Homo sapiens: one gene and its partners. The protein of the gene in region 1 purifies or fractionates together with the protein of each later gene. This does not show direct contact. Each region holds a gene or a part of one and is shown in the gene's direction. Other genes may lie near its edges. The genes, in order: TCF20, SLC39A10, ADARB1, CLUAP1, IFT80, BRF1 and RAI1.

Region 1 (3,970 bases):
AGGGGAAGGCTGAGAACAGACCTAAGAAGGAGTCCTTCCTGTATCTGTTTTCCCTGTCTGGAGATAGGGCAGCCTCAGGCCTGATACCCTGATGTTTAAAGTGGCCTTTAGCTCTTGGTGGCTCCTATTTAGGAAGAATATGGAGCAAGTGGCAACATTGTTTATACACTCAGATCTTCAGAAGCCTGATTTTATTTCCAGAAGGATTAATTAAACAACATGTAACATAGCTTTTTATAGAGAATATCTCTTGAGAAGGCTTTTCATTAGTTTAAACTGCTAGCTTTAATGTTTTTGTTCAATTTAGCCCCCATTCAGCCTTGTTTTATCTAGAGAAGGCCACTGGCACTGAGGAGTAGAGCAGGAGCACATCACAAGGGGAAAAAATTAATACTCATGTAGACAGAATTGCTCTTGATAGTTCTAAGAATGATGGGGAGCGGGTGAAGAGCCAGCTGGAACAGTATGGAGGTCCTTATAAGAGGGTGGCAGTGAAGGGACAGATTTATTGTGGGTGGCTACCCACTTTCAAGGCCAAACTGACAGGACAACTGGTATTTTTTACTGACCATGTGGAAGACCCTCTGGGCAATGTAATGTTAAAAACATGTCCTGCCCCCAGCCCTGCTGCCTAGGAGCTTTGTGAACTCTGCTTCTGTTTCCTCATCTGTAAAAGGAGCGTGCTAGTGTTGTGAGGATTAAATGAGTTAGTGTATGTGAAGTGCTGGAACAGTGTCAAGCAGCATCATCACCATTTGAATAGCTATTACCTACTGCCCTGCAGATTCACTGGAACAAAGCAACAGAGGCATTTTGAATAGGATGAGAAGTTTCCTTTAGATTCTGACATTATTTGCACATGAATGTTTAGCGATTGTTTTGGGTCACATGACTATATAATCAAGCTTAAGGAAGTAGACCCTTGTCTAGCTGTTTTAGACTTACGATATTTCAAGATATGGGTCAAGCTTTTAGAATTTGGGGTTACTGGCCATCTTCTGCTCTAATCAATATTTACTTTCTGAAGTCTTTCCTCAGTTCTCATGTGGACTCAAGCTGGGTCTTTCCCTTAGAACCGGACTCATGGGATTTTACAGGCAAGGTCTTCAGCATCCTCCAGCTCTGCTTTTAGGTTGATCATATTCTATTTTCACTTTCTATAATTCTCTCATGTCACTCCCACAGCACCATCTCTGAATATGTGAGTTCTAGCCTAGTTCTCTAAGGCCTAGTTCTTACACCATTTAATCATTCACACAGACTCCGGTGTGATGACGTGAGGATTACAGCAAGGAACAGTCAGTTTCTGCCCTTTAAGGAGTTTACATTTTAGTCAGAGGAGAGACAGACAGTAAACAAGTAGCATATATGTGTCTGTTTGGAGTAAGTATGGGGCCAGGCAGGGGATAAAACAGGGGAGGGAGTTACAGCCAGGGAAAAGGTGTGGAGCTGGCTGTTTTTACTAGAATGACCAGGGAATGAGTGACACTTGCCCAAAGACTGGAAGGAGAGCAAGCTATCTGGCTCTGGGAGAAGAACGTGCAGGTGAGAACAGAGTTCCTATGTAGATATGTGGTAGGCCTGTTCCAGGAACAAGGCAACTGTGGGGCTAGAGCAGAGAGTGATAGGGGAGGAGCTCAGAGAGGTCAAGGGGGTGGGAGCAGGGGCCTTTGAGACCAGTTTCCCAAAGAATGAGGTGGGAGCCACTCCAGGGATTGGAGAGGATAAATCTGACTTACCTTTAAAAAGGTTGTTGACTTTCCTGCAGGCAACTCCATTTTCAGCTCCCCTTCAGGGGAACTAGGAAACTAGCTTCATAAACCATTGTAACTAAACTAAACTGTCTATTACACCTCACTTTACCCTATATGTATTTTGGAACTTGTTTTTTTAAGTAATTGGTTCTAAAGTCACTTGGAGCAATTTGGCCTTGTCCCTTTCATCTCTGACTCTGAGGAGACAGGCCCAGGTGAAAGGGGAAAAAATCAGCTTGATTGATTAAGAGGGATTATAATAGGTAATACAAAGTGGTGGCTCAGTCAGATAACTTTGAAAGAGTCTGGGTCCTAGGCTTGATGAATTCCTATTTTCCTCTCTGTTTTTTGCTGTCCTCCAAGATGATTGCTTCTAATTCTTTCATAGTAATGGCCAGTAATAACTGTGAATTTAAAAAACTGGCAAATACAAATACCACATGGCGGGTAAAGGTGCTGGAACTTCTTGGAAACCTCCCAAAATAATCTGGAAGAATAGTCACTGCTATTCACTGGCTTAAGTCTAGCCCTTTGTACCTGGGAATTGAAGGAGAGTGGTGGAGAGAGGGGTGCTGTAGACACAGTCATATGCCAAGAAGAGGTTGACTCCAAAGTTTGTGTGGAACCCATATGGGCTGAGTGTCCTGGAGTCACCAGTCATCACAGGTAGTTGGCAATTATAGTAAAGCTGCAAAAATTTGCACTTGGACATAAGGAATTGGCTGCAGTTCTCTGGCCAGGTCTGTTTCTCAGTGTTGGGGAGTGGCGATCAGCAGCCAGTGTTAAAACCCGCAGTTCAGTGATCACCCTAATACATGAAAGCAGAGAAATGAAAGTAGTGGCTTATGCCTGTAGTCCCAAAACTTTGAGAGGCCGAGGCAGGAGGATCATTTGAAGCCAGGTGTTTGATGCTGCAGTGAACTACGACTGTGCCCCTGCACACTCCAGCCTGGGCAAGAGTGAGACCTTGTCTCAAAAAAAAAAAAAAAAAAAAAAAAAAAAGGATTTGGTTTTTCTTACCCCACACCCCCTCCCCCGCATAACTGGGAGGCTTATTGAAAAATTGCTGTTTTTCATTGACAGTAATAACACAGCCCCATATTTTAATCTGGTTGAGTTTGGGGGCTCATTTGTCTAATAAGGCATTATTAGATATATGAGACATACATGTTTTTGCTGTATTGGGTTTGTATGCACTCAGAGTGCTGCTTTTCATTCTACTACAGATTCTTGCCTCACTCTTTAGGCCATTTCTCTGCATATGTGCATTTTCAGAAGTGGATAGGATAAAATATAAAAGATGAAATTCAAGGTCAGGCGTGGTGGCTCATGCCTGTAATTCCAGCACTTTGGGAGGCCGAGGTGGGCGGATCACGAGGTCAGGAGTTCGAGACCAGCCTGGCCAGCACAGTGAAACCCTGTCTCTACTAAAAATACAAAAAATTAGCCGAGCCTGGTGGCCATGCGCCTGTAGTCCCAGCTACTCGGGAGGCTGAGGCAAGAGAATTGCTTGAACCCTGCAGGCAGAAGTTGCATTGAGCTGAGATCGTGCAATTGCACTCCAGCCTGGGTGACAGAGTGAGACTCTTGTCTCAAAAAACCAAAAAAAAAAAATAGAAATTCAAACCAGTCAGCTTCATCTGGGCCTCTGATTCATCTTTATTCCCTCCATCATCTAGACTTGATTTTATTTGTACCAAGGAGATGCGTGTCTAATGTTTTTCTTTCTTCTATTTCTAGGAGGGCTGTTGGCCTGCTGCTGTGCTGCTGAACAGTATGCAGTCCTTTCGGGAGCAAAGCAGTTACCACGGAAACCAGCAAAGCTACCCACAGGAGGTACACGGCTCATCCCGGCTAGAAGAGTTCAGCCCTCGTCAGGCCCAGATGTTCCAGAATTTTGGAGGTACAGGTGGCAGTAGTGGCAGCAGTGGCAGTGGCAGTGGTGGTGGACGACGAGGAGCAGCAGCTGCTGCGGCAGCGATGGCTAGCGAGACCTCTGGCCATCAAGGTTACCAGGGTTTCAGGAAAGAGGCTGGAGATTTTTACTACATGGCAGGCAACAAAGACCCCGTGACTACAGGAACCCCACAGCCTCCTCAGCGAAGGCCTTCTGGGCCTGTGCAGAGCTATGGACCCCCCCAGGGGAGCAGCTTTGGCAATCAGTATGGGAGTGAGGGTCATGTGGGCCAGTTTCAAGCACAGCACTCTGGCCTTGG
Region 2 (3,970 bases), on another chromosome or scaffold:
GTTTGTCATTTTTTTCCCAATATTTGTGAAATTCATCTATGCATGAAGCTGTAATTTCATTTTTATTCCTGTGTGATAGATTTTTCTGTTTCATTTATCATTTTGTTGTTGATTAACATTTAGGCTTTTATCAGATTTTTTTTTTTTTTTTTTTGACCAGAGTCTGTCTCTGTTGCCCATGCTGGAGTGCAGTGGCACGATCAGGGCTCATTGCAACCTCTGCCTCCTGGGTTCGAGTGATTCTCCTGTGTCAGCCTCCCAAGTAGCTGGGCTTACAGGCACATGCCACCACGCCTGGCTAATTTTTGTACTTTTAGTAAAAATGGTTTTACCATGTTTGCTAGGCCTGTCTTAAACTCCTGACCTCAGGTGATCTGCCTGCCTTGGCCTCCCAAAGTGCTGGAATTACAGGTGTGAGTCACCACACCCAGCCTTTTTTCAGTTTTGACTGTGATGAATAATGATTACGTGAATATTCATGTTGGTATTCATGTACATGGATTTCTGTTGGGCATATACCCCAGATTAAAATTGCTGTGTAAGTACATAGGCTTACATTCAGCTTCTGGCAGATCTTGCCAAACAGTTTTTCAGAAGATACAATCTCTAATACTACTGTCAGTACACAAGTTCCATTTAACTCTATATATTCTTGCCTACTTTTGATATTGGCAGTATTTTATATTTCAGTTATTTTCATGGGGTATATAGTGGTATCTAATTGTGATTTTAATTTGGTTTCCTGAAGACTTCTGAGCTGAACATATTTTCATTTGCTTTTTAGGAGTTTGGCTGCTGTTATGAAGTGCTTGTTCAAGTTACCTACTCATTTTTTCATTGGGTCGTCTTATTGTAATTTTCATATTGATTTATAGAAGTTCCTTATATATTTTTGAGTATACATTGTGGTAGTCTTCTCCCAGTCTGCAGCCTGCCTTTTTAGTTAGGTTTTTTTTTTTTTTTTGGATGTCTCTTGATGAAACATAAATTCTTAATTTCAGTGTAATATATTATCAATTTTGTGTTCTATCTCGAAGGTCTTAAAATTAGTCTCCCAAATCTTCAAGATCTGCGCTTTCCAGTACAGTAGCCAGTAGCCACACGTCTGTTGAGCACTTGAAATACAGTTAGACTGAATTAGGATGTGCTGTAAGTGTAAAATACATGACAGATTTCAAAGACATAGTATTAAAAAGAATGTAAAATATTTTAATAATTTTTATATTGATTAGATGTTGAAATTATAATATTTTGGATATAATGGGTTAAATAGAATAGTATGAAATTAGTTTCATCTATTCTGGAAAACTTCAGAATTACATAATTGGCTCTTATTATATTTCTAGATTCTTGAAGTATGCTTGTCCAATAGAACTTTCTATAATGATGGACATGTTCTGCGTCTACGTTGTCCAACATACTAGCCATTTGCTACATGTGGCTGTTGAGCAATTAAAACATAGTCAGGGTGACTGAGAGGCTGCATTTTAAATTTAATTTTAGTTCATTTAAGTACCCGTATGTGACTAGTGGTGGCTACCATTGAATTGGACAGTTCTGGACACTTTATCATTTTAGCATTTCTTGTTTCAGATTTATGTTCAGGAGCTATTAGCAATTGATTTTTGTAATGATGTGTGAGGTAAGGGTCAGATTTTATTTATTATTTTCTTTTGTGTGGAAACCTAATTGACCAAGCACCAAGGAAAAGACCATCCTTTCCGGTTTTTAGCTTTTGTCTTCTGTTCCTTTAGTCTGTTTGTTATTGCACCAAATACCACAGCATCTTTGATAATTCATAGAGTAAATGCTTCAATTTTGTTCCTCAAGGAATACATCTTAGCCGTTCTTGGCCCTTTCTATTTCCACATCAATATTAAAAACAGTTAATCAGTTTTCACAAAATTCTGAGATTTTGACTGGGGTTGTATTGGATACATAGCTTATCCAGTCATAACATGATATAGCCATCCGTTTATTTAGGTCTTTTATTTCTCTCAGTAATTTTCTGTCAATAATATTTCTCTCAATAATTTCTCTCTTTTCTATGTAAAGTTCTTGTATGTCTTTGGTTAGATACATTCCTAGCTATTTGCTACTGTTGTAAATGTTACTATTTTTGAGTTTTATTTTCTAATTATTGCTGATATATAGGAATATAATTTATTACTGTCCTTATATTCAGTAACTGTACTAAACTAACTTATTCTTAAAGATTCTTTAAGGCATGCTGCATAATTAATTCTACCATTTGTGAATAATGACAGTTTCACTTTTCTCTGGTTCTTAACATATTTTATCATGAAGGAAATGGAGTAAAACTTTTTTTAGTGGATTGGCAACTTCCAGAGAATTAGATTGTTTTGAATGTGTCTAGGTAGAAACTAATACTTGTCTCTCTCTTTAAATCTCTTTAGGAAAAATAGAAATGAAGGTACATATGCACACAAAATTTTGCCTCATTTGTTTGCTGACATTTATTTTTCATCATTGCAACCATTGCCATGAAGAACATGACCATGGCCCTGAAGCGCTTCACAGACAGCATCGTGGAATGACAGAATTGGAGCCAAGCAAATTTTCAAAGCAAGCTGCTGAAAATGAAAAAAAATACTATATTGAAAAACTTTTTGAGCGTTATGGTGAAAATGGAAGATTATCCTTTTTTGGTTTGGAGAAACTTTTAACAAACTTGGGCCTTGGAGAGAGAAAAGTAGTTGAGATTAATCATGAGGATCTTGGCCACGATCATGTTTCTCATTTAGATATTTTGGCAGTTCAAGAGGGAAAGCATTTTCACTCACATAACCACCAGCATTCCCATAATCATTTAAATTCAGAAAATCAAACTGTGACCAGTGTATCCACAAAAAGAAACCATAAATGTGATCCAGAGAAAGAGACAGTTGAAGTGTCTGTAAAATCTGATGATAAACATATGCATGACCATAATCACCGCCTACGTCATCACCATCGTTTGCATCATCATCTTGATCATAACAACACTCACCATTTTCATAATGATTCCATTACTCCCAGTGAGCGTGGGGAGCCTAGCAATGAACCTTCAACAGAGACCAATAAAACCCAGGAACAATCTGATGTTAAACTACCGAAAGGAAAGAGGAAGAAAAAAGGGAGGAAAAGTAATGAAAATTCTGAGGTTATTACACCAGGTTTTCCCCCTAACCATGATCAGGGTGAACAGTATGAGCATAATCGGGTCCACAAACCTGATCGTGTACATAACCCAGGTCATTCTCATGTACATCTTCCAGAACGTAATGGTCATGATCCTGGTCGTGGACACCAAGATCTTGATCCTGATAATGAAGGTGAACTTCGACATACTAGAAAGAGAGAAGCACCACATGTTAAAAATAATGCAATAATTTCTTTGAGAAAAGATCTAAATGAAGATGACCATCATCATGAAGTAAGTATAAAAAGATGTCCGATAGCTGCTTCGTAATTCTCACATAATTGTGGTGCATTTTAAAAACAGGATAAGTAACAGTGGAGTATTAATCATATTTAAACTTATTTCCATATGTTTACCTATGAAATATCAGGTAATGTTCATGAACAGAATACATTAAGGAATCAGAATCAGTGTAAAGATTTTTAAGTATCCGGGCGCGGTGGCTCACACCTGTAATCCCAGCACTTTGGGAGGCCGAGGCGGGTAGATCATGAGGTCGGGAGATTGAGACCATCCTGGCTAACATGGTGAAACCCCGTCTCTACTAAAAATACAAAAAATTAGCGGGGCATGGTGGCGGGCGCCTGTAGCCCCAGCTACTCGGGAGGCTGAGGTGGAGAATCACTTGAACCCGGGAGGCAGAGGTTGCAGTGAGCCGAGATCATGCCACTGCACTCCAGCCTGGGCGACAAAGTGAGTCTCCATCTCAAAAAAAGAAAGAAAAAAGATTTTTAAAATCTGAATTTCACTTGTATTTGTTTGTTTCTT
Region 3 (3,970 bases), on another chromosome or scaffold:
TGGGGGTGAAAGCGGGCTTCACACCACCTTCCTGTGTCTTCCGTTTCAGGCATCAGCAATGCAGAAGCACGGCAGCCAGGGAAGGCCCCCAACTTCAGTGTCAACTGGACGGTAGGCGACTCCGCTATTGAGGTCATCAACGCCACGACTGGGAAGGATGAGCTGGGCCGCGCGTCCCGCCTGTGTAAGCACGCGTTGTACTGTCGCTGGATGCGTGTGCACGGCAAGGTACTGAGGCGCCCTCACCGCAATGCGCCGGCTCCACCTCCCCAATAGCTTGTCTGTCCTCACACCTACTGTTCCTTAAGTTGTTTCATCATGTCATCATGCACAGCTTCCGAAAACGATCACTTGGAATGATTCTTCCTTCAGATTGTTTTAGCTTAGAAGTGTGGCTACGTCCCTGAAACCTTAATGCCATCTCAAAGGCAGCTCTTTTCCTCCCTGCTGCAGGGTAACACCCACTGCCAGGCCACTGTGTGTGGTGGAAACGTCTCTTACTCTCAGATATTGAAAGTCATTATGCAAAACGCAGGGCCAGTCACCCTGCTGTCCCCTCCTTCTCAGCAACATAAAAATTGCTTGGATTGTGATAACCCTCCAGTGGAGTTTTTAAACCTTTTGAATTAGCTGTGGGGCCCTTTTTTCCCCAGAATAAAACTTTATATAGTAAGTCAGGGTATTACTAGTTTGTGTGTATTCTTCAGTCAAGTAGATGGCATCTGTTTATTCTGAGACCAGCATTGTGCACTGGCATGGGAGGTATAGCCAGAAGGGACAGTGCCCGGGAGGGTCCTGTTCACCAGGGGCAGCACCCAGGCCAGCTGCCACAAGTCCAAGGTCCACACAGAAGGAGTTACTGGCCGCATGAGGGAAGGCCTCCGAGGTCATCAGGGTGATGACACACATAACATCCGTGGTGCTTCTTAGAGTTAAAAATGAAACGTGAATCCACTATTGGTGGTTTCCCAGAAGCATGTCTTCAGAACTCGGGGGTCTGTAGCTGCCTGTTTGACCAGCAAGACTGGAACTTGGCAATAACTCAGCCCTTAGGAGACGCCGCACCTTGTTCTGTGTGAAGCCGTTCCCTTGGCAGAAGGCGCCTTCCTCTGGGTTGCTTTCCCCCCAGAAGCCAATGCAGTTCTGAAGGCCATGTTTTGGTATCTTATTAGGTGTTGTTTTCATCTGTTACAGCGTCAACAGTTGCATTTGTTTTTTTATCCCTTCACAGGTTCCCTCCCACTTACTACGCTCCAAGATTACCAAGCCCAACGTGTACCATGAGTCCAAGCTGGCGGCAAAGGAGTACCAGGCCGCCAAGGCGCGTCTGTTCACAGCCTTCATCAAGGCGGGGCTGGGGGCCTGGGTGGAGAAGCCCACCGAGCAGGACCAGTTCTCACTCACGCCCTGACCCGGGCAGACATGATGGGGGGTGCAGGGGGCTGTGGGCATCCAGCGTCATCCTCCAGAACCTCACATCTGAACTGGGGGCAGGTGCATACCTTGGGGAGGGAGTAGGGGGACACGGGGGACCACCAGGTGTCCACGGTTGTCCCCAGCATCTCACATCAGACCTGGGGCAGGTGCGCAGTGTGGGGAGGGGATGGGGTGCGTCAGGGCCCAGCATCGCCGCCTGGCATCTCTCTGCCGCAGCATTTCCCCTTCTGAACCGTCCAGTGACTGCTTTCAATCTCGGTTTACGTTTAGAAATTGAGTTCTACTGAGTAGGGCTTCCTTAAGTTTAGGAAAATAGAAATTACTTTGTGTGAAATTCTTGAATAAATAATTTATTCAGAGCTAGGAATGTGGTTTATAAAATAGGAAGTAATTGTGTCAGGTCACTTTTATGCCACATTATTTTAATTGCAAAAAAGCATCTATATATGGAGGAGGGTGGGAAAATAGAGGTAGGAAATAGTAGCCTAAAGGAAATCGCCACACGTCTGTCTAAACTTAGGTCTCTTTTCTCCGTAGGTACCTCCCTGGGTAGTTCCACACACTAGGTTGTAACAGTCTCTCCCTGAGGAGCAGACTCCCAGCATGGTGTAGCGTGGCCCTGTCATGCACATGGGGTCCCGCAGCAGTGACTGTGTGTCCTGCAGAGGCGTGACCCAGGCCCCTGTAGCCCTCAGCCTCCTCTAGAAGCTTCTGTACTCCTTGTAGGATCAGATCATGGAAAACTTTTCTCAGTTTACTTCTAAGTAATCACAGATAATACATGGCCAGTAATCCCAGGCTGGCCATTCATTCAGGTTTTTTAAAGGATATTTAACTTTTATGGACTAGAAGGAATCACGAGGGCTACTGCACAATACATGGCCTAAGTTCCCTCTGTTCCTTCCTCTGAATCGAATGGATGTGGGTGACCGCCCGAAGGCCTTCACAGGATGGAAGTAGAATGATTTCAGTAGATACTCATTCTTGGAAAATGCCATAGTTTTAAATTATTGTTTCCAGCTTTATCAAAGACATGTTTGAAAAATAAAAAGCATCCAAGTGAGAGCTGGTGAGACCACGTGCTGCTGGCGTAGTGTAGGCCAGACATTGACAGTCCTGACGGGAGCTCAGGGCTGCCCAGCGCCCAGCGTGCACGGGACGGCCCCACGACAGAGGGAGTCAGCCCGGGAGGTCAGGAGCGCGGCGGGCGAGGGCCCTGTGTGGACCACCTCCACCAAGCTCAGAGATTTGCACCAGGTGCCTTGTTGCCTCCGCTCAGGATGAAAGAGGAGCTGAGAGAAGTGCTCTGCCTGCCAGTGCAGTGCCCAGCTCCAAGGCTCTAGAGGGTGTTCAGGTGGGTCTCCTGGGGCCATGGGGAGAGATTGGTGCAGACCTTACCCCACAGCATACACCTGCCACAGCGAAATCCAGGGTGTTGGCACCTGTGTGTCCGTGATGAGCCTAGGAAACCAGAGCAGGGGCAGAGGGGCGTCATCCTCCCACCGGACGCTGGGAGCTCAGACCCCAAAACTGAAACACCGTGGCTTCGGCGGGGGGTGTGCCTCCTGATGTCAGGAGCCCCATCCACGTGTGTCCACACAGATCTCGTCGCAGCACGGCAGGAAGGGGTGCTGCTTAGGGCTCATTGTTGGGGACATGACCGGGTTCAGCGGCTAGAACATCTGCCCCACAGCAGCCTCCTCCTCCACCGAAGAGGGTAGTTGTCTCCCTGAAGCAGTCACAGCAGGCGTCTCTGCCGCTCCGTCACCACAGTGGGGTTTTGTTCAGGCAGATCGCGCTGGGGTTCTGCACCTGCAGAAGGAGAGGGGTCTGTTGTCGCTGGCTTTCCCCCAAGCAGGCTCTTGCACACTCTAGAAAAAACACCTTGTAAGTCTGTGCATTTTTATTGTCTTGATAAATTGTATTTTTTTCTAATGGGGATTGGGAGATGGACTTCGTTTTTAAAAATATGTGGATTTTGGTTACCAAGTTTAGTGTTAATATATTCCATATACATACAAAACTACCCGGTATGTCTGGCTTTTCCCTTCTGTCAGGTAATAGCTAAAGTCAGCATGATTGCTCCCTGTACCACCCCAAATAAGTGAGTGCCTCACCTTGTGGGGCCTGAGCAGCTACCTTGAGACCATGTGAGGTGGCACCTTTCCGGGGTGGACTCGTGCGGCCTTGAGGACAGGCACAGGGCACCCTATCCCAAGCCGTCCAGGCAGGAGGAAGGCAGCCAAGGCAACTGGGTTCTGGGAGCCCTGGGTGGGGCAGCTGTGGGGAGGAACTGGGTTCGGGGAGCCCTGGGCGGGGCGGCTGTTGGGGGGAACTGGGTTCGGGGTGCCCTGGGCAGGGGGCTACTGGGGGGCGGCTGTGAGGAGGAGTTGGGTTCAGGGAGCCCTGGGCGGGGTGGCTGTCAGGGGGAACTGGGTTCCGGGAGCCCTGGGCCGGGGCAGGGGGCGGCTGTAGGAAGGAACTGGTTTCGGGGAGCCCTGGGCGGGGCGGCTGTGGGGAGGAAGGTGACGTG
Region 4 (4,520 bases), on another chromosome or scaffold:
TAATTAGACTGTTTCTCATTATTGAGTGTTGAGAGTTCTTGATACATTCTGGATACACGTCTCTTTATCAGATATGTGTTTTGTGCATATTTTCTTCTAGACTGTGGCTTATCTTTTGTTTTTCTTAATAACACGTGAAGCAACATTTATGGGAGGCCATTGTTTTGGAGCGAGCTCCTGCACAAGGTACCAACGGACCAGACCAAACCAGAATGGAATCGCTAGTGCAAGGTGCCACGTAATCAATGCGAACTTAGAGACAGGCCAGTCTGCCAAAACACAGAAGATTCACTGCAACCAACAAAAGGGGCCCTGTCCACCTAGGCTGGCATAAGGAAGCCCCCTCTGCTTTAACCCAAAGAAATGCATCTGAAATAACCTGATGCCAACCAATCGCTTTGTGCACTACGCTGTTTCCTTGTTCCTGCTCAAGCTACCTTACAAAACCCGGCTGCTGTGCCACGCCTGGCGGGGCATCTCCCCATTTCACACGTGGAGGCCGCCCCTTCCTGCCGTCTCCTCGCGCCCCCATGCAGAGGCTAGGGCTGCCGGGACCCGCGCGGCGCGAGCGGCTCAGGGCCCCTTTCCGGCCTGTTGTGCAGCCCGAGCCGTCTGCGCGTGCGCGAGACCGAGGCCTGGCCTGCCTCTGGGCGCCCACAGTGATCCCGTCCTCCGCTCGGCAACCAGATTCCGACGAGGAGCGCGCTGTGCCTCGGACGGGGGAAGGCGGGCTTCCTGAGTATAGTGCATTTTTTTTTTTTTTTTTTTTTTGAGACAGAGTCTCGCTCTGTCGCCAGGCCGAAGGGCAGTGGCGCGATCTCGGCTCACTGCAACCTCTGCCTGCCGGGTTCAAGTAATTCTTCTGCCTCAGCCTCCCGAGTAGCTGGGATTACAGGTGTGCGCCACCACGCTTGGCAAATTTTTGTATTTTTTGGTAGAGACGGGGTTTCGCCATGTTGGCCAGGCTGGTCTCGAACTCCTGACCTCAAGTGATCCGCCCGCCTCGGCATCCCAAAGTGCTGGGATTGTAGGCGTGAGCCCCCGCGCCCAGCCAAGCATCGTGCATTCTTTATAGAAATGAGGGGGAAATAAGCAATATGGAAAGCGCCTAGCGCAATATCAAGCACGTAGTAGGTACTCAGAACCTGTCACCCAGCGCGAAACGTCCGCAAAGCGTGTAAACAGACGCCCAGAAGCTGGGAAGCTTGCAGCCCTCATAGACGCCGGTATCGCCACGCCCTCTGCCCTCGGCGTCTCAGGAGCGCTCTCTGCCGGCCCGCTCTCCCCGTGCGTATGCACGTGCCGCCGCGTCTTCGCTTCGCTTTTTGTTTGTCCCTGACCGTGCGCCGTCCAAGGGTCCATTGGTTGCCATAGAGATCGTCGAGCGCTGGGCCTGTGATCGCTGAGGGGCGAGCAGTTGCGACCCTGGGCTCCTGGGGACCTGAGCGTTATGTCTTTCCGCGACCTCCGCAGTAAGGCAGCCCCGCGCCCCTGTGACCTGCGGGTCTTCCAGAGATTCAGGGCTCCCGCCCGCCGGGTCCCCTGTGTAGGCGATCCCTGAGGCTTGCGCTGCCGGAGGCTCCTTTCGGGCCTCTGCGCCTCAGGGACCGCCTGACCCGCGGCTGCAACCCGGCCGAGCGTCCCAGGCCCTTCTTCGGCCATTTCTAGCGAGGATGGAAAGTTCTCTATCTGCCACTGGCCGCGTGTGGCTCAGAACGCTTGAAATGTGGCTAGTGCAGATGAATAACTGAATTTTTAAGTGTAATTTATTTCTGTTTGTGTAGCTGCATGCCGCTCTTCGCTACCGTATTGGAAAATGCATGGAGAGTTTAGAGACTATTTTTTGAGTTGGGTTAGCTTAGCGCTTAGAAAACCGAACAGCAGGCCGGGCGCGGTGGCTCACGCCCGTAAGCCCAACACTTTGGGAGGCCGAGGCGGGCGAATCACCTGAGGTCGGGAGTTCGAGACCAGCCTGACCAACATGGAGAAACCCCGTCTCTACTAAAATTACAAAATTAGCCGGGGGTGGTGGCGGGCGCCTGTAATCCCAGCTACTCGGGAGTCTGAAGCAGGAGAATCGCTTTGGAGGTTGCGGTGAGCCGAGATCGGGCCATTGCACTCCAGCCTAGGCAACAAGAGCGAAACAACATCTCAAAAAACAAAAAACAAACCAAAAAAAAAACAACCAGCAACGAAACCGAGGAGAGGAGGCTGGGTGATAATCATTGCGGCTAACATTTTTTGAGTTTTAACGATCTGCCAGGGCCCGCTCTGTGTTATGCGCATTTCATTTTAATCATCTGAACAACTCTGTGCCCCCTGTATTTGGTAGTGAGGAAACGGGCACAGAGAGGTCAGGTAACTTGGGCAGGTGATACAGGCGGTAGGAGGTGGCACTGGGGCTTGAATTCAGGTTGCCTGAACTCCAGACATCCTGAACTCCATCTGCATCCTTTCTGCAGGGCTGGTAAGGAGAAGGGAGCTCGAATTCCTTTGCTAAGAGGGTGGGGAAGTGGAAGAACGAGGCTAAGAGTGTTGGTTACGGCTGGGCGCAGTGGGTCACGCCTGTAATCCCAGCCCTTTGGAAGACCGAGGCAGGCGGATCACTTAATTTCAGGAGTTCTAGACTAGCCTAGCTAACATGGCGAAACCCTGCCGCTGCTAAAAATTCAAAAAATTAGCCGGGCATGGTGGCGCGCGTCTGTAGTCCCAGGTACTTGGGAAGCTGAGGCAGGAGAATTGCTTGATTCCGGGAGGCAGAGGTTGCAGTGAGCCAAGATGGCACCACTGCGCTCCACCCTGGCCGACAGAGTGAGACTGTCTTTAAAAAAAAAAAAAAAAAAGGAAAGGTAGATGATGATTGCCAATTTGGTGTGATCCGAGGGGTCTCTTAAAGCCAGTTTTCTCGTCCAATTGTTGGTGCCTGAAATTTTAGCATTAGAGATTACTCCTTTTGGTTATGAATTGCTCTTTTCTACAATGTAAAAATATCTAGGAAGACGCATTACCTTTTATCCATGCAGCCACTGAGCACCAGAGTGTGAATCCTGCCCTCTGGGGTTTGAAGGTTTTTGGTGGCCACACATCATGCAGGATGACTGTCTCCTCCCACATAGTTTTTAGAGAGGCCAGCACCCTGCCGGGGGACGTAGAATGGGGTTTTGTTGGGGAGCGCACACACGGAGATTTCGGAATATTTTGATCTTAAATTAATGCTCTGCAGTTGTGCAGTGTATGGTAAGGATCTTACTCAAATTAGTGTCTATTTTGACAATAACACCGCAGCATTAACAGAACTTGACTAGTACCTAGTGGTCAGGAGTATTTAGGCAGTGCCTTACTGTGTGAAGGAAAGGCTGCTGCTTTCTTTTCTGTTCTTTTTTTGAGACAGTCTTGCTCTGTCTCCCAGGCTGGAGTGCAGTGGTGTGATCTTAGCTCACTGCAACCTCTGCCTCCCAGCAATTCTCCTGCCCCAGCCTCCCCAGTAACTGGAATTATAGGCGCCCGCCACCACACTCACCTAACTTTTGTATTTTTATTTTTATTTTATTCTTTTCTTTTTTTGAGATGGAGTCTCGCTCTGTCACCCAGGCTGGAGTGCAGTGACGCGATCTCGGCTCACTGCAAGCTCCGCCTCCTGGGTTCACGCCATTCTCCTGCCTCAGCCTCCTAGTAGCTGGGACTACAGGTGCCCGCCACCACACCTGGCTAATTTTTTTGTATTTTTAGTAGAGACGGGGTTTCACCGTGTTAGCCAGGATGGTCTCAATCTCCTGACCTTGTGATCCACTCGCCTCGGCCTCCCAGAGTGCTGGGATTACAGGCGTGAGCCACTGTGCCCGGCAACTTTTGTATTTTTAGTAGAGGTGGGGTTTCACCATTTTGGTCAGGCTGGTCTTGAACTCCTGACCTCAGGTGATCTACCCTCCTCGGCTCCCAAAGTGCTGAGATTACAGGCGTGAACCACCCGCGCCTGGCCTTTTTTGTTTTTGTTTTTGAGACAGGGTCTCACTCTGTCACCCAGGCTGGAGTGCAGTCACATGATCTGAGCTTACTGCAACCTCCTGGGCCCAGGTGATCGTCCCACCTCAGCCTGCTGAATAGCTGAGACCACAGGCATGCACCACCACACCCAGTTAATTTTTTTTTTAATCTCTGTATTCACATTTCCCAGAAAACAGTTACAGAGTCCCTTTGTGACTTTGCTGTTTCCTGTGCTCACACTTTCTGTTTCATTGTCTTGCGAAGTCTGACCTGACTTGCAGTACCTAGGTAGGTTATTTGTGAACATTGATGGACCATTTTGAACATGGATCTTCAAGAAGAGTGCAGACAGACCTTAAATAACCAGGAAGCACACTGAATGTAGATCTTGGTACATATGGGAACTCAACAAATGTTTGTGGTGTTCATTTCCAAGTCCTGCTCTCTTGAAAGCACTAAGGCTTTTCCTGAGGTGACCCCAACCTATGGATCAACAAGTATTAGTATTACTGTTTCTTAATCTGTTTTATAGTAAA
Region 5 (3,370 bases), on another chromosome or scaffold:
CTGGGGGTGGGAGGAGAGGTGGTGAGGTAAGGCAGGGCATTTGAGAATGACTTCAACATTTCTAGTGTGGGCAGCTGATAGATGGGAATGCCATTAATCTAAAGAATACATAAGAATATACACATTTTGGACCTTTGAGTTTGAATACATGAAAATATACCATTTTGTATGTGATTAGAGTGTCTATCAGGTGTCCAGAAGGAGGTATCTAGCAGGCAATTAGAAATATAAATATGAACACAAAAGGACATTGACAAGGGAGAAATAAGGGCTAGAAAACTAAATTTATTGCCTTGACCATCTAGGTATAGTTGAAGCTATATGAATTGATATTTCTTAGGGAAAGTGTTAGAAAGCTATGGTTGGACCCTGGTGAATATTAACAGTTAAGAGGTTGTTGAAGGAAACCAAAATATGACACCCCAAAATATGTCTCTTTGACACTTATATTTTTGAGCTAAAGACAAGCTGCAGCAAATGGAAGAGCTCTATTCTCCCCCTTTTCCTCCTAAAGACAAAATATAAATTCTCCTTTACTAGAGACAACTCTTGTCAGCTCAGGGACGACTCCAGAGCAATCTACCAAAAAACCTTACTCCGTGGCTGGGCGTGGTAGCTCACCCCTGTAATCTCAGCACTTTGGGAGACCAAGGCAGGAGGATCATGTAAGCCAAGCCCAAGAGTTCAGGACCAGCCTGGGTAACAAAGTGAGACCTTGTCTCTAAAAAAATTTAAAAAATTAGCCAGGTGTGGTAGCATACACCTGTGGTCCCAGCAGGAGGTTGAGGCTGCGGTGAGCCATGTTTGGGCCACCACACACCAGCCTGGGTGACAGAGCAAGACCCTGTCTCAAAAATAGAACAAACCTCACCTGATTAGTTTCTTCCCATATATTTTTTTCCCATGGTTTCCAATCTCTGGAAGCCTAAAACTGTTTTCACTTCTCTAAAAACAGTCTTGTCACATCTTTAAAATTTATTGTTCTTTGTTGAAAATGCTATGTAACCCAGAGTTCCAAGACACTGTTTTGAGTTACCTTTCATTGAGATTTCTCCTGCTGTGATGTACACTGCACATATTATTGAACCGGCTTGTTTTTCTCTTTTCACCTATCTCTCCCATCAATAAACTTACAAGCGTTGAGGAGAAATTATATTTCTTCTCCAACATTGTCTAGGGAGCAGAATATAGGGAAAAAAGAGAGAGAAAGAAAGAAGCAGCATTTAGAAAGGAGAGCAGGAGCCAGAAGAGAATGGTATTATACAGTCTTGAGAGATTTTTCAAAGAGCAGTGGTCAGCAAGGTCCAGAGAAGGCTCTTATTCCAGGGCCGTCCGTGTACTTCTGCATGTCACCATGCCCTTCTCCAGATATACACATGGGTCTCACTCATCTCCTTCAGGTCCCCCTTTTTTTTTTTTTTTTTGAGACAGGGTCTCACTTTGTTGCCCAGGCTGGAGTGCAGTGGCACAATGACAGCTTACTGTGGCCTCAACATAGCCAGACTCAAGCGATCCTTTCACCTGAGCCCTCTAAGTAGATGGGACTAGAGATGAATGCCACCAAGCCCAGCTAAATTTTTTATTTTTTTGTATAGACAGGGTCTCACTATGTTGCCCAGGCTGGTCTTGAACTCCTGGGCTCAAGCAATCCTCTTGCCTTGGCCTCCCGTGAAGTAAACTGATGACATTGCAACCTCCTATTCTATTCCTGGTGCTCACTATCTCCCTTCTCTATTTTCAAAATCTTTACCGCTTCTGGCATACTAGATATATTTTTTGTTTTGTTTATTATCTGCCCTTTCCATTTTTATCTTTGTTTATTATCTCTCTATGAAGACAGTGATTTCTATCTTTTTGTTCACTGGTGAATCCTTGTACCTCAGACAATCCTTGATATATACTAAGCACTAAATATTTGTTGAATGAAAAATTGAATCATACAGAGAAGGTATATAAGATAAGGACTGAAAACAGCCGAAGGTGGTTTTAGTGCAAAGTTCTTAAAGTGTCACAGGATCAGAATTATAGTGGACAGGGAAGAGAATGAGAGTCAGGAATGAGAAGAAGAAGGATGGTAGCTTGCAGGGAGAAGACAGCATAGAGAGCCAAGGATGATGAGAGCGAGTCAGTGAAAAGAAGGACATTTAATGTGTGAGGAATAATTGAAGTCAGATGTCCTAGAGGAGTCAAAGAAAATGGAATCAGAGACATATGTTAAGAGGTTGGCCTGAGACGGAAGAGAAAGATAATGATGGGTGTAGATACAGGTAAGTTCGTGAATGCAAGGAAGGAAAATAAAGTGAATTCATACCTCATGGCCACTATATTCTCTGTAAAGTAGGAAGCTGATCTTCAGCTGAGAGGAAGAGAAAGAGAAATGTGTTAGAGGATGGAGAGCCTTTTGGTATGATTTTGAAATTGCTTATAGGTGACTAAGAATTGGCTAGCGAGTAGAATAAGGAGTGCCAGATAATATTGGCAGTCCCTATACTAGCAAAAGATGGATTTTAGTGTAGAAATCACTTGACAACTATCAGAGAACATTCTTATCTAAAACCTACTATTAAAAATATTCTAATCCACGAACTAAATTATCTGTAGAACACTTTTTAAAACTAGATCAATGCCAAAGCGAAAGTGAAACATTTATTTTCAGTAGGACAGCTATCCACTGACACCCTGATTTGTATTATAACAAATAACTAATACAGATATCATCAATTTACTTGCAACAGAGCAGCAGTTGTTCAGTATATTATCAATGTATGGTTTTATTGTGATTGATTTGAGAAATGTATGTAAGTCAATTTAAGGCTGGAAGAAACCCAAAGCATCCATCAAGTTTCGTCTTCTCTATAAGTGTTTTGTTAGACATAGAAATGAGTGCTTTGCCGTTTAAAAAATATCAGATTTTGCCCTGATTGAAAAAATGAGTCTTTCAAATAATCTAACATCTGCTTGGCTTTTCAATGAGCTGTCACTTGCATCTTAGCACAGACATTTGTCTTCTATGAGTGAGAGGAATTCGTTTATTAATTCATCTATTTTATGTATTATACATAAGTATATGGCATTGTTATTTTAAATAAAGGTGAGCCAAAATATTTACAAATTGCTTCACAGCAATTCAGGTATGGGATATTGGAATTAAAAAAAATACTTAATTTCTTTAACCTCCAGCATAAAAGAGGCATGAAGTCCTATTAAAGTTAAATTAACCCCTCACTTACTTAAGCTAAATCTGTTCAAGCAGACTGAGATTACTTCATTCTGCTTTAATACTACTTATTCCATTCAACTCCCCTAAACAGAGGTGAAAACCTATTCACTTTTGGCCCAGACTCAGGGGTTTGGATTTATTTCCTGTAAA
Region 6 (3,970 bases), on another chromosome or scaffold:
TTTTCCTTTGTCAGCATCACACGCTTTTTTACTATACCTGTTATATTGTCCTGAAATCAGATATTGTGAGTCCCTCAACCTTTGTTCTTCCTTTTCAAAGTTGTTGTGGCTATTAATTTCCCTTTCTCTTTTTAATTTTAGAGTAAGTTTGTGCATCTCTGCAGGTCACATATTCTTACCTGAAATGCTTGGGACCAGAAGTGTTTTGGATACCAGAGTTTTCTGATTTTGGAATATCTGCATTATAATTACTGGTTAAGCATCCCTAATCGAAAAATCTGAAATCTGAGATGCTCCAGTGAGCATTTCCTTTGAGCATCGTGTTGATACTCAAAAAGTTTCATGTTTTGGAGCATTTATTTTTTATTTTATTTTTTTCTTGAGACGGAGTCTCGCTTTGCTGCCCATGCTGGAGTGCAGTGGCACTATCTCGGCTCACTGCAAGCTCCGCCTCCTGGCTTCACGCCATTCTCCTGCCTCAGCCTCCCAAGTAGCTGGGACTACAGGCGACCGCCACCACGCCCGGCTAATTTTTTGTATTTTTAGTAGAGACGGGGTTTCACCGTGTTAGCCGGGATGGTTTCGATCTCCTGACCTCGTGATCCACCTGCCTCAGCCTCCCAAAGTGCTGGGTTTACCAGCGTGAGCCACTGCACCGGGCCGTTTTGGAGCATTTATAATCTCAGATTTTTGGATTTGGGATGTTCAACCTGTACAAAAGTCCTGGTGGGGTTTTCATTGGAATTGCATTAAACCTCTTGATATATTTAGGGAGAGCTGACATTTTTTCTTTCTTTCTCTTTTTTTGAGACAGAGTCTCACCCTGTCACCCACGCTGAAGTGCAGTGGCGCGATCTGAGCTCACTGCACCCTCCGCCTCCCGAGTTCAAGTGATTCTGCTGCCTCAGCCTTCTGAGTAGCTGGGACTGCAGGCACACGCCACCACACCCAGCTAATTTTTGTATATTTTTTAGTAGAGACGGGGTTTCACCACATTGGCCAGGCTGGTCTCGAACTCCTGACCTCGTGATCCGCCCTCTTCGGCCTCCCAAAGTGCTGGGATTACAGGTGGGAGCCACTGTGCCCAGCTGACATTTTTTCTATGTTGAATCTTGTAGTCCATGGAACACAGTGTATGTTTGCATTCATTTAGATTTTCTTTGATATAGTCTGTCAGTGTTGGGTAGTTTTCAGCATACAGCTTCTGGACTTTTTTTTTGAGATGGAGTCTCGCTCTGTCACTCAGGCTGGAGTGCAGTGGTGCAACCTCGGCTCACTGCAACCTCTGCCTCTTGGGTTCAAGCGATTCTCGTGCCTCAGCCTCCCAAGTAGCTGTGATTACAGGAGCCCACCACCACGCCTGGCTAATTTTTGTATTTTTAGTAGAGACAGGGTTTCACCATGTTGGCCAGGCTGGTCTCGAACTCCTGACCTCAAGTGATCCCCCCCCACTTCAGCCTCTCAAAGTGCTGGAATTATAGGCATGAGCTGCCGTGCCTGGCCCTCTGGACATTTTTTAGATGTGTACCTAAGCTCTATTAGGAGTTATTATAAGTGGAATTTTTTTAATTTAGTTTTCAACTCTTCATTGCTTGTTTATATAAATATGGTTGATTTCTGTGTGTTGTCCTGTTTCCTATGGCTTTGCTAAACTTACTTGTTCTAAGAGGTTTTTTTTTTTTTTTCTTTTTTTTTGAGCTGGTGTCTTGCTCTTGTTGCCCAGGCTGGAGTGCAGTGGCACCATCTTGGCTCACTGCAATCTCCGCCTCCCAGGTTCAAGAGATTCTCCTGCCTCAGCCTCCCAAGTAGCTGGGATCACAGGCACCCGCCACCGCACCCAGCTAAGTTTTTTGTTTTTTTTTTTGAGACGGCGTCTTGCTCTGTCACCCAGGCTGGAGTCCAGTGGCACAATCTCGGCTCACTGTAAGCTCTGCCTCCCAGGTTCATGCCATTCTCCTGCCTGAGCCTCCCAAGTAGCTGGGATTACAGGCGCCCAGCACCACGCCCGGCTAATTTTTTGTATTTTTAGCAGAGGCGGGGTTACATGGATGGTCTCAATCTCCTGACCTCGTGATCCGCCCACCTCGGCCTCCCAAAGTCCTGGGATTACAGGTGTGAGCTGTTGCACCCGGCCGCAGTTTTTGTATTTTTAGTAGAGATGGGGTTTTGCCATGTTGGCCAGGCGATCCACCCGCCTTGGCCTCCCAAAGTGCTGGGATTACAGGTGTGAGCCACCACACCTGGCCCCTAAGAGTTTTTAATACACTCCTTGAGTTTTTTTTTTTTTTTTTTTTTTGAGATAGAGTGTCGCTCTGTTGCCCAGGCTGGAGTGCAGTGGCGCAATCTGGGCTCACTGCAACCTCCCCCTCCTGGGTTCAAGCGATTCTCCTGCCTCAGCCTCCTGAGTAGCTGGGATTACATAGGAGCCCACTACCATACCCGGCTGGTTTTTGTATTTGTAGTAGAGATGGGGTTTCACCATGTTGGTGAGGCTGGTCTTGAACTTCTAATCTCAAGTGATACACCTGCCTTGGCCCCTGAAAGTTCTGGGATTACAGGCGTGAGCCACCGCACCCAGCTTTTTTTTTTTTTTCTGGGACAAAGTCTCACTGTTGCCCAGACTGGAGTGCAGTGGTGTGATCACAGGTCACTGCAGCCTGGAACTTCTGGGTTCAAGAGATCCTTCCACCTGAGACTCCAGAGTAGCTAGGACTACGGGCATGCACTACCATGCCCAGCTAATTAAAAAAATTTTTTTTTGGTTGGGGAGACAGGGTCTAGGGTCTTGCTCAGTCACCCTGGCTGGAGTGCAGTGGTCATGGCTTACTGCAGTCGTAACCCCCTGGGCTCCAGTGACCCTCCCAGCTCAGCCTCCTGAGTTGCTGGTACTACAGGTGCGCCCTACTATACCCAGCTAATTTTTGTATTTTTCTTGTAGAGATGGGGTTTTGCCATGTTGACCAGGCTCGTCTGGAACTCCTGGGCTCAAGTAATTCTCCCGTCTTGGCCTCTCAAAGTTCTAGGATGACAGGTGTGAGCCAACGCCAATTTTTTTTTTTTTTTTTTTTTTTTTGTAGAGATGTGGTCTTGCTTTGCTGCTCAGGCTGGTCTCGAACTTCTGACCTCAAGGCATCCTCCCACCTTGGCCTCCCAGAGTGCTGGGATTAGCGGCATGAGCTGCTTTGCTCAGCGCCGGATGTTCTGTTGAGGGTTCCTGCTGATGCTTGCGTGGGATATTGGCCTGTAGTTTTTCCTGTAACGTCCTTGTCTTGGGTATCAGGGTTCTGCTCCTTATGGAATGGGTTGGGAAACGTTTCCTCTTCTATTTTCTGGAAGACATTATGTAGAGTTGGTGTTCTTTCTTTCTGAAATGTTTGGTAGAATTCACCAGCGTAGCCATCTGGTCCCAAAGCTTTCTTTCTCAGAAGATTCTGCACTGTGGTTTCGGCTTCTTTCATCACTGAGGTTCTAGTTATATTTAAGATGCTGTGTTTCACCTGGGGTGAATTAGCCGCTTGTGTTGAGGAATTGGTCCACTTGACCTAGTTGTTGAATTTGCCCAGAGAGTTGTTCGAAGCATTCCCTTATCCTTTTGATATCTGCGGGGTCCACAGTGGCCTCCTTTTTCCTTTCAGATGTTGGTGTTTTGTGTCTTTTTTTCCCTTTGTCTCTCTTGCTAGAAGTTGATCCGTGTTTTTGATCTTTTCTAAGAACTGGCTTGGGCTTCATTGAGTTTTCTCTCCTGCTCTTCCCTCCCCATCGTCTTCCATGCTCATACTCCCTGGGTATCTTCCTAGGACTGCTGGGCACAGAGTTTGCAGCTGTGTCACAGTTGCCAAGACTTGGATGTCTGTTGGGATGATAACAACAGTAATGAAAGCAAGTTGTCATGGCAGCAGACGCAGGGTTTCCCGGGCAGGCACAGTGTTAAGTGCATCCGGGCCTGGTGACAGCGCACTGCCCTCACTGT
Region 7 (3,970 bases), on another chromosome or scaffold:
GGGTCCTAAGCAGGGCACTTGTCCTGAACCTCACTTTTTTCTGTAAAGGGGGAGGAGAGATTAATCAAACCGTTGTTCAAGAAAGCCGCACAGAGTAGGTGTTCTGCAGCCGCCTTGCTCCCGCCTCAGCAGTCCTATAGATTTCTGGAGGGAAAGGGCTGAGGTCTTTGCCTAAAAGAAGGGCTGTGCCCCAGGTGTGTGCCACACTGCCGAAGGCCTGTGAGAGCCGCTGGCCTTGCACCGTAGGGTAGCTGGGGTTTCGTTGTGCCCCCACTATGTTCATGGCTTGGAGTGAGGACACCCATTGCTGTGTCAAGGGGAATCCTGATGCCCTGGGTGCTATGTGATTCCAGCTCATGCTCCCTGCTGTGCCTGGCCTGCCTCCTCTGTCCAGCGCTGAGAAGACTAAGTTCCAGGATCTGATTCTAAGGGTGAAGTGTTCATGTATCTGGTGCTTAGAGGATGCACTAGACTCCGCTCCTCCTGCCTTCTAGTTTCAGCAAGAACTTTGGAGATAAGGCCTGGACCAAGTGTCTGAGAGGAGAGGCAGGTTGGGGAGAAACGGATGGATGGGAATGAGTGGGGACCGTCCGGGCAGTGTGGTTGAGCTGGACCATGAGGAGTGAGCCCAGTGGGTGGGGGGTGCCCTCCCTTGTCCCCTCTCACCACCCCTTCTCCCTCCAGCCCAAGCCACAGGCCAAACCCACAATCTGCCTGCTAGGCCACTTCTTCCCTGCCCCCAGGTTCAAAGGTCACCATCGTTCTGCCGGGGCCAGGGAGGGGGGTGCTCTTTCTGCCCCCTCCTCTCCTGAGGCCTGCCCAGCCCAACCCAACCCAGCCCAGCCCTGCTGCCTGCCTCGCCTTCTGTGTCCTGTCCTAGTGCTCTTGAAAAGTAATCATAATCATAATAATTAATAACAACAGAGCCCATAGCAGGCCTGAGGCAGCCCTTAAAGAGGCAGTGCCCCCTTTTCTCCCAGCAGAGCTGGCAGTGGGACCTGGCTGGCACTGAGAGGCGGCCTGTGCCTTTGTTCCCATCCCTCCCTTTGCCTTGGGTTCCAGGGTGGTGTTGGGGCGAGCATTTTTGCCTGCATTCTCCATCAGCACTGGGCTTCTCGTGTTTTAATTGAACTGTCTTTTCTTAGCAATAGATGCTTTCACCGCATCCAGCTGCTCGTGTGTATTGGGAAACCTGCCTGTAATACAGCTCGGCTAAATTAAAAGACACAGCAGCTGGACCAATTAAACAGGGAGGGAGGAATGCAGACGGACAGGCAGGGAGGGGGTACTGGTAATAGCACCCCCTCACTGTCTCTGTCTCTCTTTAAATAATGTTTCTGGTAATGCATTTTGGAGAATGTGAAAAAAAATAAAAAATAAAGCCGTAGAAATGTTAATGATATCCACAGGACACTCAGCAGGAAATGAGAGTGATCTGGGACTAATAAAAGCCGAAATGTAATTTGTGCAGATATACGAGGCGCAGCCTTCAGAGTGGTCCTGGGTTTGCACATTCTGGGCTCATAAACATGCGCCTGGGGAGGGCAGGGAGCGGGCGCTGTGCCCTCGGCCTGGGCACAGGCCCGCCTGGGCTGCCCTGTGGCAGTCTGGCCAGGGCAGGAGCGTGAGGCTGCCCACCTGGCAGGGAGCTGCCAGACCAGAACCAAGTGCCGTCCCCAGCTCCTCTGGGTTGGCGCGTCGCAGCAGGAACCTCCTGTAATGTTTTATCCAAGCTGCCAGGGGTAGGATTGAAGTGGGTCAGAAGGGTGGGCACGCTGCTTGTTAGGGATGCCTGCGACAAATCCAGGGAGAGGAGCTGGAGCAGAGGGAAAGCGGCTTTGATAAGCCGGTGGGCAGGGGCTCGCCTCGTGGGAAAGTGGCCGGCCCCCACACTGGGCTGACTCTCCTGCATTTGTGGGCCAGGGCAAGCTGACTCCAGAGAGCAGGAGAGGTGGTCCCAGGACTGGGCTGACGGGCTTCTGGGGGCCATCTGGCTGCCCTGGGCTTGCCCTGCTCTCAGGCAGATGGAGGCCCTCTGTCGCCTTCCCTGCATCCATCCCCAGACACTAAATGAGGAAGGCACTTGTGGTGGGGTCCGGGCCAAGGAAGAAGGGTAAATGGAGCAGCACCCCCAGCTCTCCCCCACTCCCCACCTTTCTGCCTCTTCCCTGTGCCCCTCCCCGACTCTGCGTGCCTCTCCCTCTCTGTGCCCCTCTCCCCCTCTCTTTGTCCCTTCCTGACCCCTTCAACAACCTGGAATCTTTGTAGCCTGAGGCAAGCCACCCCTTCCTTTTGGAGCATTTGGGAACCAGCACTGGAAAGTCCCCTATCCCCTCCTGGGGGCCTGGGCCACACAGGCCGAGCTGAGCCCCTTTCTTCCTGCCTCCGGGCCAGCATGGTTCTGGGTAAATCCCAAACCCTCTGGGACTCGGCCAATGGCCAGCCCCTCCATGCACTTCCTCCAAAACCTGGGGCATTCCTCTTTCTTCCATCCCTCTTTGAGGGGTCTTCTGGTTGGCCAGGCCAGCGAGTCAGCTGGAGGAACCTTTACCCTGGATGCTGGGCTGTCAGATGCTCTGCTCTGAGAGGCTCCCGCAACCCACCCTGGGTCCTTTCCTGACCCAGGATTCTGCTCTGCAGGCAGGGGCAGGTTAGACCCCTGCCTGAGCCCCATCCCCTAAAATCATAACCAGATGGGCTCTTGAGTGTTGCCTGCCCCAGCCCTCACCTGCTGAGGTGGGGAGGAACTGGCCAGGAGGGGACAGGGCTGTGTCGCCCCATGTGGGTGGGGCTGGGCTGTGCCCTTCCGTGGCCGTGGCCCTGGGACTGCATCTCTACTCCCATTAGTATGCACTCCCTCACTCTGGGCCACGTAATCTGTTTATGCACGTATGATATCAAAAACAGGAGGCAGGTGCTGCCGTCTTGCGTTCCTGGGAGTCAGAGGAGGGGACATTTTATGTCTACAGTGGCTTGGCAGCCCCTAATCGATGTCTGCTAGAAGGAACAGACAGATTCCAGATGGCGTGGCAGTGATAGAGGAGGTGTGTGTGTGCATGCGTGTGTGTGTGTGTGCGCGCGTGTGTGTGTGAGCATACATATGCTTGTGTGCACGCATGTGCGTGGGGACAGGGGCAGACCCTCCTCAGTCCCCAGCATGGCTGGGTCATGCTTGAACACGGTCGCGAAGGGACTAAATTACAGGATCCAGCAGGCCCCAGGGGATGAGGGAGCGGGAATTGCTCTGCTAAATGCTTTTGAGCTGTCAGGAAGGGCTGGGAGTGATGGGTGGGGGACATTGGGGAGGAGCTGGCAATGGGCGGGGGGGGGGCGGGTAGCTCCCCAGTGACCTGGCGCTGGGCAGCCGGTTTTGCCTCCCGCATCAGTGGCCGTCCTTGGCAAGACTCAGCTGCAGGCGATGTGGGAGCGGGAATTACAGAGCACACCTCCCTGACACAGAAGTTGTCAATATGCGCACAGCTGGTGGGGAGGCTCAGGCGAAGGGGGGACTATTAAGAGCTGCGCGGGGGAGCAGGCAGGGTGGGGAGGTGGGTGGGAGGGTGCTTTCTGAGGCAAAAGGAAGTGGCCCGTCTGAATCGCTCATCCTCTGCCCCCTCCCTGCCCATCCTCCCCTCCCTCCTTCCCTCCCTCCCTCCCTTCCTTTTTCTTTTCACAGATAACCAGCCCGAGTCATGCAGTCTTTTCGAGAAAGGTGTGGTTTCCATGGCAAACAACAGAACTACCAGCAGACCTCGCAGGAAACATCACGCCTAGAGAATTACAGGCAGCCGAGTCAGGCCGGGCTAAGCTGCGACCGGCAGCGGCTGCTCGCCAAGGACTATTATAACCCGCAGCCTTACCCGAGCTATGAGGGTGGCGCTGGCACGCCCTCTGGCACTGCAGCCGCGGTGGCCGCCGACAAGTACCACCGAGGCAGCAAGGCCCTGCCCACACAGCAAGGCCTGCAGGG

What was found.
Region 2: the proteins of TCF20 (region 1) and SLC39A10 purify together in Homo sapiens (affinity purification with mass spectrometry; one large-scale study listed by BioGRID and IntAct). This does not show direct contact.
Region 3: the proteins of TCF20 (region 1) and ADARB1 purify together in Homo sapiens (affinity purification with mass spectrometry; one large-scale study listed by BioGRID and IntAct). This does not show direct contact.
Region 4: the proteins of TCF20 (region 1) and CLUAP1 purify together in Homo sapiens (affinity purification with mass spectrometry, with the first as the bait; one large-scale study listed by BioGRID). This does not show direct contact.
Region 5: the proteins of TCF20 (region 1) and IFT80 purify together in Homo sapiens (affinity purification with mass spectrometry, with the first as the bait; one large-scale study listed by BioGRID). This does not show direct contact.
Region 6: the proteins of TCF20 (region 1) and BRF1 purify together in Homo sapiens (affinity purification with mass spectrometry; one large-scale study listed by BioGRID and IntAct). This does not show direct contact.
Region 7: the proteins of TCF20 (region 1) and RAI1 purify together in Homo sapiens (affinity purification with mass spectrometry; one large-scale study listed by BioGRID and IntAct). This does not show direct contact.

What each region holds. Positions count from the first base shown.
Region 1 is NC_000022.11:42,214,866-42,218,835, reverse strand, and holds part of TCF20 (transcription factor 20), read left to right. Parts: intron 1-3,494; 5' UTR 3,495-3,530; coding exon 3,531-3,970. UniProt on the Homo sapiens protein: Transcriptional activator that binds to the regulatory region of MMP3 and thereby controls stromelysin expression. It stimulates the activity of various transcriptional activators such as JUN, SP1, PAX6 and ETS1, suggesting a function as a coactivator.
Region 2 is NC_000002.12:195,677,615-195,681,584, forward strand, and holds part of SLC39A10 (zinc transporter ZIP10 precursor), read left to right. Parts: intron 1-2,417; coding exon of another isoform or gene 2,418-2,428; coding exon 2,429-3,436; intron 3,437-3,970. UniProt on the Homo sapiens protein: Zinc-influx transporter. When associated with SLC39A6, the heterodimer formed by SLC39A10 and SLC39A6 mediates cellular zinc uptake to trigger cells to undergo epithelial-to-mesenchymal transition (EMT).
Region 3 is NC_000021.9:45,220,787-45,224,756, forward strand, and holds part of ADARB1 (double-stranded RNA-specific editase 1), read left to right. Parts: intron 1-49; coding exon 50-228; intron 229-1,231; coding exon 1,232-1,411; 3' UTR 1,412-3,970. UniProt on the Homo sapiens protein: Catalyzes the hydrolytic deamination of adenosine to inosine in double-stranded RNA (dsRNA) referred to as A-to-I RNA editing.
Region 4 is NC_000016.10:3,499,618-3,504,137, forward strand, and holds the start of CLUAP1 (clusterin-associated protein 1), read left to right. Parts: upstream 1-1,386; 5' UTR 1,387-1,450; coding exon 1,451-1,472; exon of another isoform or gene 1,473-2,467; intron 2,468-4,520. UniProt on the Homo sapiens protein: Required for cilia biogenesis. Appears to function within the multiple intraflagellar transport complex B (IFT-B). Key regulator of hedgehog signaling.
Region 5 is NC_000003.12:160,259,856-160,263,225, reverse strand, and holds part of IFT80 (intraflagellar transport protein 80 homolog), read left to right. Parts: intron 1-3,370.
Region 6 is NC_000014.9:105,294,407-105,298,376, reverse strand, and holds part of BRF1 (transcription factor IIIB 90 kDa subunit), read left to right. Parts: intron 1-3,970.
Region 7 is NC_000017.11:17,789,257-17,793,226, forward strand, and holds part of RAI1 (retinoic acid-induced protein 1), read left to right. Parts: intron 1-3,676; 5' UTR 3,677-3,692; coding exon 3,693-3,970. UniProt on the Homo sapiens protein: Transcriptional regulator of the circadian clock components: CLOCK, BMAL1, BMAL2, PER1/3, CRY1/2, NR1D1/2 and RORA/C. Positively regulates the transcriptional activity of CLOCK a core component of the circadian clock.